Linked DNA regions of Homo sapiens: region 2 is linked to region 1. The links come from fine-mapping of genetic effects on gene expression. A gene starts in region 1. The other region holds a variant in brackets. All regions are shown on one strand. Distances are from middle to middle.

Region 1 (4,391 bases):
CAGAGATCACAGGCATGCACCACAATGCCCATCTAATTTTATATAAAATTTTTTTTGTAGAGACGGGGTCTCACCATGTTGCCCAGGCTGGTCTCAAACTCCTGGGCTCAAGTGATCCACCAGCCTGAGCTGGGATTACAGGAGCGAGCCACTGCGCCCGGCCAGATTTTCAATTTTACTCCAGGATCCTGACCTTAATTTGTGCCCCATTCAAACCATCCTCCAGACTGACCTTTAACTAGCTGTGAGTAAATTTACTGACCCACTGGCTACAATGTTAACCTATGGAAATTAAAAAGCAACTAAGCAATCATAATCTTTACACATTAAAAAAAATTGTTGTTCCTTGCCTAAAACATGGATACCAACAACAGCATGCCATGACAAATTTAACTTTTCTGGACTGGTTTTGCTCTGGGACGGAAGGCAACAAACACTGGGATAAGATCCACGTTAGTAATACTTCATCAATATTAGAGCAGGGCCAGAAGCAAGTATCCTGTCTCCCAGGGAACTTTTTTCATGCTCCCACCTACTCCCCCAAAAGGGAACTCAGAATAAAAAAAAATTTGTTACTGTTTATTATGCACTTACCATGAGCCAGGCACTGTGGTGTCTTAGATAGTTATTTTGTTTAAATCCTCACAACAACCCCTGAGATATTATTATCCCCATTTTATATAAGAATAAACTGAGATTTAAACAATGGCCCCTCCTCCCCCGGCCTAAATCATAAGGCATCGAAATCAGAAATTTTACTCCATTCTCTTTCTTCTTTAATTACTTTTCTTGATCTGGTCTTTGCAAAACAAGTAGTATTTTTGACATAACACCTACATTTTAGGAACCTGTCATTAAATAAATTTGTTTCTATGGTGCTACGTATTTTTCAAAGTCCTTCAACTTTTTTTTTTTTTCTATTTGCCCCTCAATCAACCCTGAGATACCTCACGAAGCAGTACTTAATCTCATTTTAGAGGTGAGGATCCACTGACCCAGCAGGCATAGGTGAGCCCTTCTTCTAATCCCTTCAGAAGCAATTCTCAAACTGCTCAAATGTTCCATCAGATCTGAATGCCTTACACTAAACTGACAACTCTGTCACCAACTTTACAGAGAAAACAGAAGCCATCAGGTGCAAATTCCTTCTTTTTCTCTCTGCCCTACCTCACACCTGAGCTTATGATTATCCATAATCTTTTTTTTACCCCATCAGGAGTCACAGATAAAGGATTCATTCTCCTATCCCCACAACTAATACGTGCCCAGGATCCCATTTCTATCTATTCCAAGTTACTCTACCAGTGAGTTGTCTTCTCATTTTTCTGTTCCTTCAACCTCTCCCTCTCCACTAGCTGGTTTCCCTCACAGGACCAACACGCATGTGCAGTATTTGCTTCCACCTGAAAACAAAACAAAAGACTCTTTTATCCCACAATATTCTTTAGCCACTGCCCTGACCCTTTTTTCCTTCTGAGTTAAGCTCCTCGAAAGTATAATAATTTAGACTGGATACCTCCTTTAACTCACCTCCTATTCACTGAAACATGGATTCTGCCCTTATTGCTCCACAGAAACTGCTCTCCCTAAGGCCATTAATGAGCTTTTAAACACCAAATCTAAATGTCACTTTTCAATTACCGAATCTTTATCCTGATCCAAACCTTTTCTTTCTTATTTCATTTTGTTCCACAAGAAAACATTGGAAAATACGAAACTTTTTCTTGACTCCAGTATCCAAATCTGCTGGACTCCAAAACTCACACTCTTAACCATTATGCAGTACCACCTGTAGTTAACCATAAAGTTATCTGATTTCCTTTTCTATTTCAGCCAGTCAGTCACCAAATCCCAGTGAACAAATGATAAATTTCCTAAATGTCTCTGGAAGTGGTTTCCTATGGATGACTCCCAGACACCCAATTTAGAAACTTTATGATTATTCTGAAGTCTAACCTGGATTTACTCCTTAAAAACAAAGCTCAGAACATATCACAGGGAACAATCACCTCTCTTCAGTGACTCCCCTTTCTGGGGACATATTCAACACTACTTTAAAATCCACAGAATTCTCCAAGGCGGTGTGATGAGAAAGAGAGGCTGAGTGGTTTATTCACCGTCAGTCTAACATAGGGCTGGGAATACAAGGGAATCAACAGTCTACTATCTGTGGGGAAACGTCTTCTTGTTAGGTGTCTATAAATTATTTGTAAAGGTCGGTTTCTTCAGTTTGCACCCTGGCCTTAGTGACTTGTTTTCAAGTTTTAAATGGGGTTCTCTTTTGCAACTGTGAGAGCATTAAATAAATCAGCAACTATTAGCACCCAAGGAAGCTAACTAATCCTTGCCTACTGAAGGTCCGTGGTGCCGACCCTTCTTGGCTCCTACCAGACCCTTCCTTGGCGGTCCAAGGAAGCCAAGTCGTCAGTCCCCACAGACTCACCTCTTAGAGATTTCTCAACTACAAGGACTTAGGCAAGGTTTCCCTTTTGACTGGAAGGCTTGTAGAAACGTGACAACCCGCCTTCCCTAACACTCATGTCACAGCGGTAGCGGACCGTATTCTGGGACAAATGGAACTCACGACATTCCAAAGAAAGGTCAGCCGCAAGCGAACTTAGCACTGGCTACACCCTCCTCAATTCTGGTTGGCGAGATGCGCTCTTCCCGGAAGTGACGCACAAGTGCCGGCGGAAGGGGAAGTCCAGGAGCATGGGTGGTTTTTTTCCCCCTACCGAGGTCCGTGAGGTGTGTGCTAACCAAGGGGCGGCTCACAACCGTGACAGACTGCCATTCCTGAGTCTCTTCTGGCCATGGGCCCCCGGAGCCGTGAGCGTCGGGCAGGCGCGGTACAGAACACCAACGACAGCAGCGCCCTCAGCAAGCGTTCCCTGGCCGCGCGCGGGTACGTGCAGGACCCCTTTGCCGCGTTGCTGGTTCCGGGCGCGGCGCGCCGCGCACCGCTCATTCACCGAGGCTACTACGTCCGCGCACGCGCCGTGAGGCACTGCGTGCGCGCTTTTTTGGAGCAGATTGGCGCGCCCCAGGCCGCGCTTCGCGCGCAGATCTTGTCTCTCGGCGCTGGCTTCGACTCGCTCTATTTTCGCTTAAAAACCGCGGGCCGCCTGGCCCGGGCTGCAGTCTGGGAGGTGGATTTTCCGGACGTGGCGCGGCGCAAAGCAGAAAGGATTGGAGAGACGCCAGAGCTGTGCGCGTTAACCGGGCCTTTCGAGAGGGGGGAGCCCGCGTCCGCGCTGTGCTTTGAGAGCGCAGACTACTGCATCCTGGGTCTGGACTTGCGGCAGCTCCAGCGAGTGGAGGAGGCCCTGGGCGCCGCGGGGCTCGACGCAGCCTCACCCACTCTGCTCCTGGCCGAGGCGGTGCTGACCTACCTCGAGCCGGAGAGTGCCGCGGCCCTCATCGCCTGGGCAGCCCAGCGTTTTCCTAATGCCCTTTTCGTGGTCTATGAGCAGATGAGGCCTCAAGACGCCTTTGGCCAGTTCATGCTGCAACATTTTCGGCAGCTAAACTCCCCCCTGCATGGCCTGGAGCGTTTTCCTGACGTGGAGGCGCAGCGGCGCCGCTTCCTTCAAGCTGGCTGGACCGCCTGCGGTGCCGTGGACATGAATGAATTCTATCACTGCTTTCTTCCCGCAGAAGAACGCCGGCGGGTGGAAAATATTGAACCCTTTGACGAATTTGAGGAGTGGCATCTGAAGTGCGCCCATTATTTCATTCTGGCAGCTTCTAGGGGAGACACCCTCTCCCACACCCTAGTGTTTCCATCCTCAGAGGCATTTCCTCGCGTAAATCCTGCTTCGCCTTCAGGGGTATTCCCTGCCAGCGTAGTCAGTAGCGAGGGCCAGGTCCCAAACCTGAAGAGATATGGCCACGCCTCTGTCTTCTTGAGCCCAGACGTTATTCTCAGTGCAGGAGGATTTGGAGAGCAGGAGGGGCGGCACTGCCGAGTGAGCCAGTTTCACTTGCTCTCAAGAGATTGTGACTCTGAATGGAAAGGCAGCCAAATAGGCAGTTGTGGGACTGGAGTTCAGTGGGATGGACGCCTTTATCACACCATGACAAGACTCTCAGAGAGTCGGGTTCTGGTTCTGGGAGGGAGACTGTCCCCAGTAAGTCCAGCCTTGGGGGTTCTCCAGCTTCATTTTTTTAAGAGTGAGGATAATAACACTGAGGACCTGAAAGTGACAATAACAAAGGCTGGCCGAAAGGATGATTCCACTTTGTGTTGTTGGCGGCATTCAACAACAGAAGTGTCCTGTCAGAATCAGGAATATTTGTTTGTGTATGGGGGTCGAAGCGTGGTGGAACCTGTACTAAGTGACTGGCATTTCCTCCATGTAGGGACAATGGCTTGGGTCAGGATCCCAGTG
Region 2 (4,391 bases), 240 kb after region 1:
GGAGGCCGAGGTGGGCGGATTGCCTAAGGTCAGGAGTTTGAGACCAGCCTGACCAACATGGTGAAACCCCATCTCTACCAAAAATACAAAAATGAGCCAGGCGCCTGTAATCCCAGCTACTCGGGAGACTGAGGCAGGAGAATTGCTTCAATCCGGCAGGCGGAGATTGCAGTGAGCCCAGATCGTGCCACTGCACTCCAGTCTGAGGGATAGAGTGAGACTCTGTCTCAGAAAAAAAAAAAAAAAGAGAGAAATTGCCATAGCCACCCCCACGTTTAGCAATCACCAACCTAATCAGTCAGCCATTAATATTGAGGGAAGATCCCCCTATCAGCAAAAAGATGACAACTTTCTAAAGACTCAGATGATCATTAGCATTTTTTAGCAGTATTTTAACATTAAGTACATTTTTAAAGACTTCATACTATTGCACTCTTAGTATAGTGTAGTGTAAACATAACTTTCATATGCATTGGGAAACCAAAAAAATTTGTGTGACTCACTTTATGTTCACTCTATTGTGGTAGTCTTAAACTGAACCCGAAATGTCTCTGAGGTGTGCCTGTATCTTGCCCATCCTTTCTTTGGATGCTGACTTTGAGGGTTACCTCGGAGTTCCCTTGCTGCCACTTTATCCATTTCTGTAAAGGTATTAAGCATATGCTGTGCTCTGTGAAATAATTTTCCTTAAGCTTTTAACCCCTTGCCTCAGATGACCTAACACAAAATATTAAGACCTCTAATGCCAGGTGATTTACTATGACCGCCTACATGTTCTTTCAAGATATTTTCAGTTAACATGCCTCCTCTTGAATAAACCATAGTTGATGAGCTTAGTTTTTTTAAAGCATTTGATGCAGCCTTTTTTTTTTTTTTTTAATGTTGTCACACTCTAATTCTAATCTGAGTGCTTATGGAAATATGCTGTGGTAAGTAAACGTTACTGATAAGACTCCAGTAGAGTTAGTGCACTTTCCTAACTGCCCACTTGCTGCCCAGGAATGACACAGACCCTGTCCAGAATGGAGTCTACTGTTACTCACTTGAATATAATTCTCTTTCTAATAGTTTACTTAATGCCACTCTTCAGAACAAAGTCTGTTTGACTTGTTTAGAGGAGTGAAGCTGTAACTACTTAATGTCTTTATGGACCACCTTTTAAAATGCCTTTGAAGTTTTGGTATTTATGGGTAAGCCAGAAATGACTTTAGCCACTGGAGGGAAAGTCTGTTAATTTATCAATTTTTTAAAAATACACACATGTTCTGCCTTGTAATTTAAGAGAGGATTTTAGTTGGTTTGCAGATATATATTCCATACAGCAGAAAGAGAATATGAAATAGATACCTCAGAGTTTATGAAAGCAGATTTTACTTATCCAGATACTTCAAGGAAAGCCTAAAAAATTGGGGCATGACTTATGACAGAGATGAAAAAGAGAATACAACAAATAGGACAAAGAGAATTTGTCCCTTAGGAGGGACAAAATGTTTTCAAAAACCAAATTCTGACAGCATGCTTATACGTTATCTCAACAGGAAAGAAAAGAGAGTGGACTTGTCATGTGGCTCTATATTTGACTCTGGCTTATTTTATCAATGCCATAAAGGCATAGAAGACTTATCATATTTACAGACAGCACAAGGCTGGTAGGGATAACAAGTAAAGGATAAATCCCATATAGGCTGAATATTGTGTCAAAACTAACTTAATTGTGATGAAAGTAAAGCCTTATATCTAGGTTCATTTGGTATAGGACTAGGTCTCTTACATGTGATTGATCTAAGGGTTTTAGTTGTCTGCACTTTAACCAAGTCATGTGATGTAGCAGCCAAAGAATGCTTTGCTTGCAGGAGCTAGGAAAAAGAGGATTTAAAATATATATAAAAAAGAAAATAAAAAAGAAAAAGAAATAGAAAAAAATTTAAAAAGAAAAAAAGAATGTGAGAATGGATGTTTTTGTTGTTTGTTTGTTTGTTTGCTTTTTTTTTTGAGATGGAGTTTCACTCTGTCTTCCAGGCTGGAGTGTGGTGGCACGATCTCAGCTCACTGCAACCTCTGCCTCCCAGGTTCAAGCGATTCTCCTGCCTCAGCCTCCCGAGCTGGGACTACAGGCGTGCACCACCACACCCAGCTAATTTTTTTGTATTTTTAGTAGAGATGAGGTTTCATCATGTCGGCCAGGCTGGTCTCAAACTCCTGACCTCAAGTAATCCGCCCGCCTCAGCCTCCCAAAGTGTTGGGATTACAGCTGAGCCACCACGCCTTTTCAGAATGTGATCTTTTGAAGCAGTTTAGTGCTCAGGATAAGGAAGGTAATAAATAGTCCTATTCCTCTTTATGGAAGCATGCTGTGCAGTTTCATAAGGGTAATCAAGTTGGAGAGTGGTCAGGATACCATGTCTTTAGGGCTGGCCAAATTTCTTTATTCTCTTTTTTTCAGTTTAGCCATGAAATGAAGAGACTAGAAATGAGAGACGTAATAGTTATCTTCATTTATTTGAAAAGACTGATGAAAAAGCAGAGTGAATTATATTGGTTTATTTCAGTAACAGGATAAAAGTTACAGGAAAGTAGATTTTAGCTTAGTTATGAGCTTGCCTTTTTGGTTTTTTTTTTTTTTTTTTTTTGGAGACGGAGCCTCACTCTGTTCCCCAGGCTGAATGAAGTGCGGTGGCGCGATCAGGGCTTGCTGCAGCCTCAACCTCC[T/C]GGGCTCAGGTGATCCTCCCACTCAGGTACCCAGCCTGAGTACCTGGGACTACAGGCTCATGCTACCATGCCCAGCTAATTTTTGTGTTTTTTTGTAGAGATGGGGTTTTACCATGTTGCCTACGCTGGTCTTGAACTTCTGGGCTCCAGTGATCTGCCTGCCTTGGCCTCCCAAAGGGCTAGGGTTATAGGCATGAGCCATTGTGCCTGGTTGCTGTAAACCTTTGAGTCTGTAGAATAATATTAGAAGAAAACATTGTATAATCAAAGATTTTTGGTGCCTAGAGATGCTCTAATTATTACTAATCCATAGTGGCTGTGAAAAATGGTAGCGCCTCCAGGTTTTGTTACCACTTTAAAAAGAAGAATTAGAAAAACAATTACTGGGCTCTGAAGGCTCTGTAGATGTCTAGCAGTTGTTTAAGGAAGGTCAAATTGTGGTTTAAACAAAACTAATCTACTTAAGTAAGTTCCTTTTTCAGAATGATGTTCCCAAACAGGCATCTAAGCTGTTGGGTCAGAGTTGAAAACATATCTCTAGTCTCCTTGGGGATGAGGGAAATGTTTGGAATGTTTGGGAATTTTAATGTTGAGAACTTGTTAAGAACTTGTTTTTTACAGAATAGTCAATTAGGAAAGCTTTCCCTTAATTTCAAACAGTTATTTTTTTTTTCCTGGACTTGGTACTTAAAAATTCTTAATTTTATTCCTGTTGAAAATGGGGGAAAATTTTAAAAACAACCAACCAAAGGCAAAAAATCAAACCTATTTTAGTTGAAAAAAATTTTCCACAGTTTGGCAATAATGGAAAACATTTTTGTGAAGAGTGTAACTGAACTTTATTTCCCATAAAAATTCTAGGCTGGGCGCGGTGGCTCACGCCTGTAATCCCAGCACTTTGGGAGGCCAAGGCAGGCGGATCACAAGGTCAAGAGATTGAGACCATCCTGGCCAACATGGTGAAACCCCGTTTCTACTAAAAATACAAAAATTAGCTGGTTGGGGTGGCACGCGCCCGTAGTCCCAGCTACTTGGGAGGCTGAGGCAGGAGAATCGCTTGAACCCAGGGGGCAGAGGTTGCAGTGAGCCGAGATCGTGCCACTGCATTCCAGCCTGGTGACAGAGCAAGACTCTGTCTTAGAAAAAAAAAATTCTATACACAAAGTTATAGAAGGCTTAATGTTATCAAAATTTGCTTTGTTTTCTCTGGCAAGAAATGTGTAGCATTTAGCAATTAACTGATAACTTTTATTGTGTACTTGTGCTAGGCCTATAGGATACAGGGATTTGAAGAGCAAAGTTCCTCTCCTCAGGGAGCTTACATTCTAATTGAAGAGGCTAGATGTACACATTTAAAGGTAATTAATGATATCAGCCAGTGGTATAAGTACAGAATGAGTACTGCCTTCAAATACTGTATTAGAATTAACAGAAGAAAAATTTTCTTGGGCTGATCAGTGAAGGATTCGCTAAGGTTGGCCTTGAGCTGGGCCTTGAGGGATAAATAAGTTGGTGTGGGGGTGGAGGGACAGAGAGCTAGTAGTGAGACTGATGGAGAGGGTATTTAAGGCATCAGCACCCAGACATTCTGCCTAAATCAGCCAAGAGTATAATTTGTTTTGTTTTTTGAGATGGGGTCTCACTGTGTTGCCCAGGCTGGAGTGCAGTGGCATGATCTCCGC

Evidence for each region. PIP is the estimated chance that this variant, and not a neighbour inherited with it, causes the effect. A credible set is the group of variants that fine-mapping cannot tell apart.
Region 2: its variant is the best candidate, but not a certain one, in a credible set for the expression of MAPDA in fibroblasts (GTEx, PIP 0.87).

The regions. Positions count from the first base shown.
Region 1 is chr15:43,328,912-43,333,302 of GRCh38, reverse strand. It overlaps MAPDA (N6-Methyl-AMP deaminase), which reads right to left and starts at 2,631. Exons shown (of 13, transcript NM_001324366.2): 1 at 2,444-2,631; 2 at 1,303-1,403. It overlaps LCMT2 (leucine carboxyl methyltransferase 2), which reads left to right and starts at 2,730. Exons shown (of 1, transcript NM_014793.5): 1 at 2,730-4,391. The coding sequence starts at 2,814. RefSeq lists enhancers at 2,590-2,639, 1,872-2,822.
Region 2 is chr15:43,092,030-43,096,420 of GRCh38, reverse strand. The region is part of intron 1 of UBR1 (ubiquitin protein ligase E3 component n-recognin 1); the gene reads left to right. Among named protein-coding and RNA genes, the nearest start is that of UBR1, 12 kb to the left of the region's middle. The variant T/C (reference allele first, on the strand shown) is at 2,710.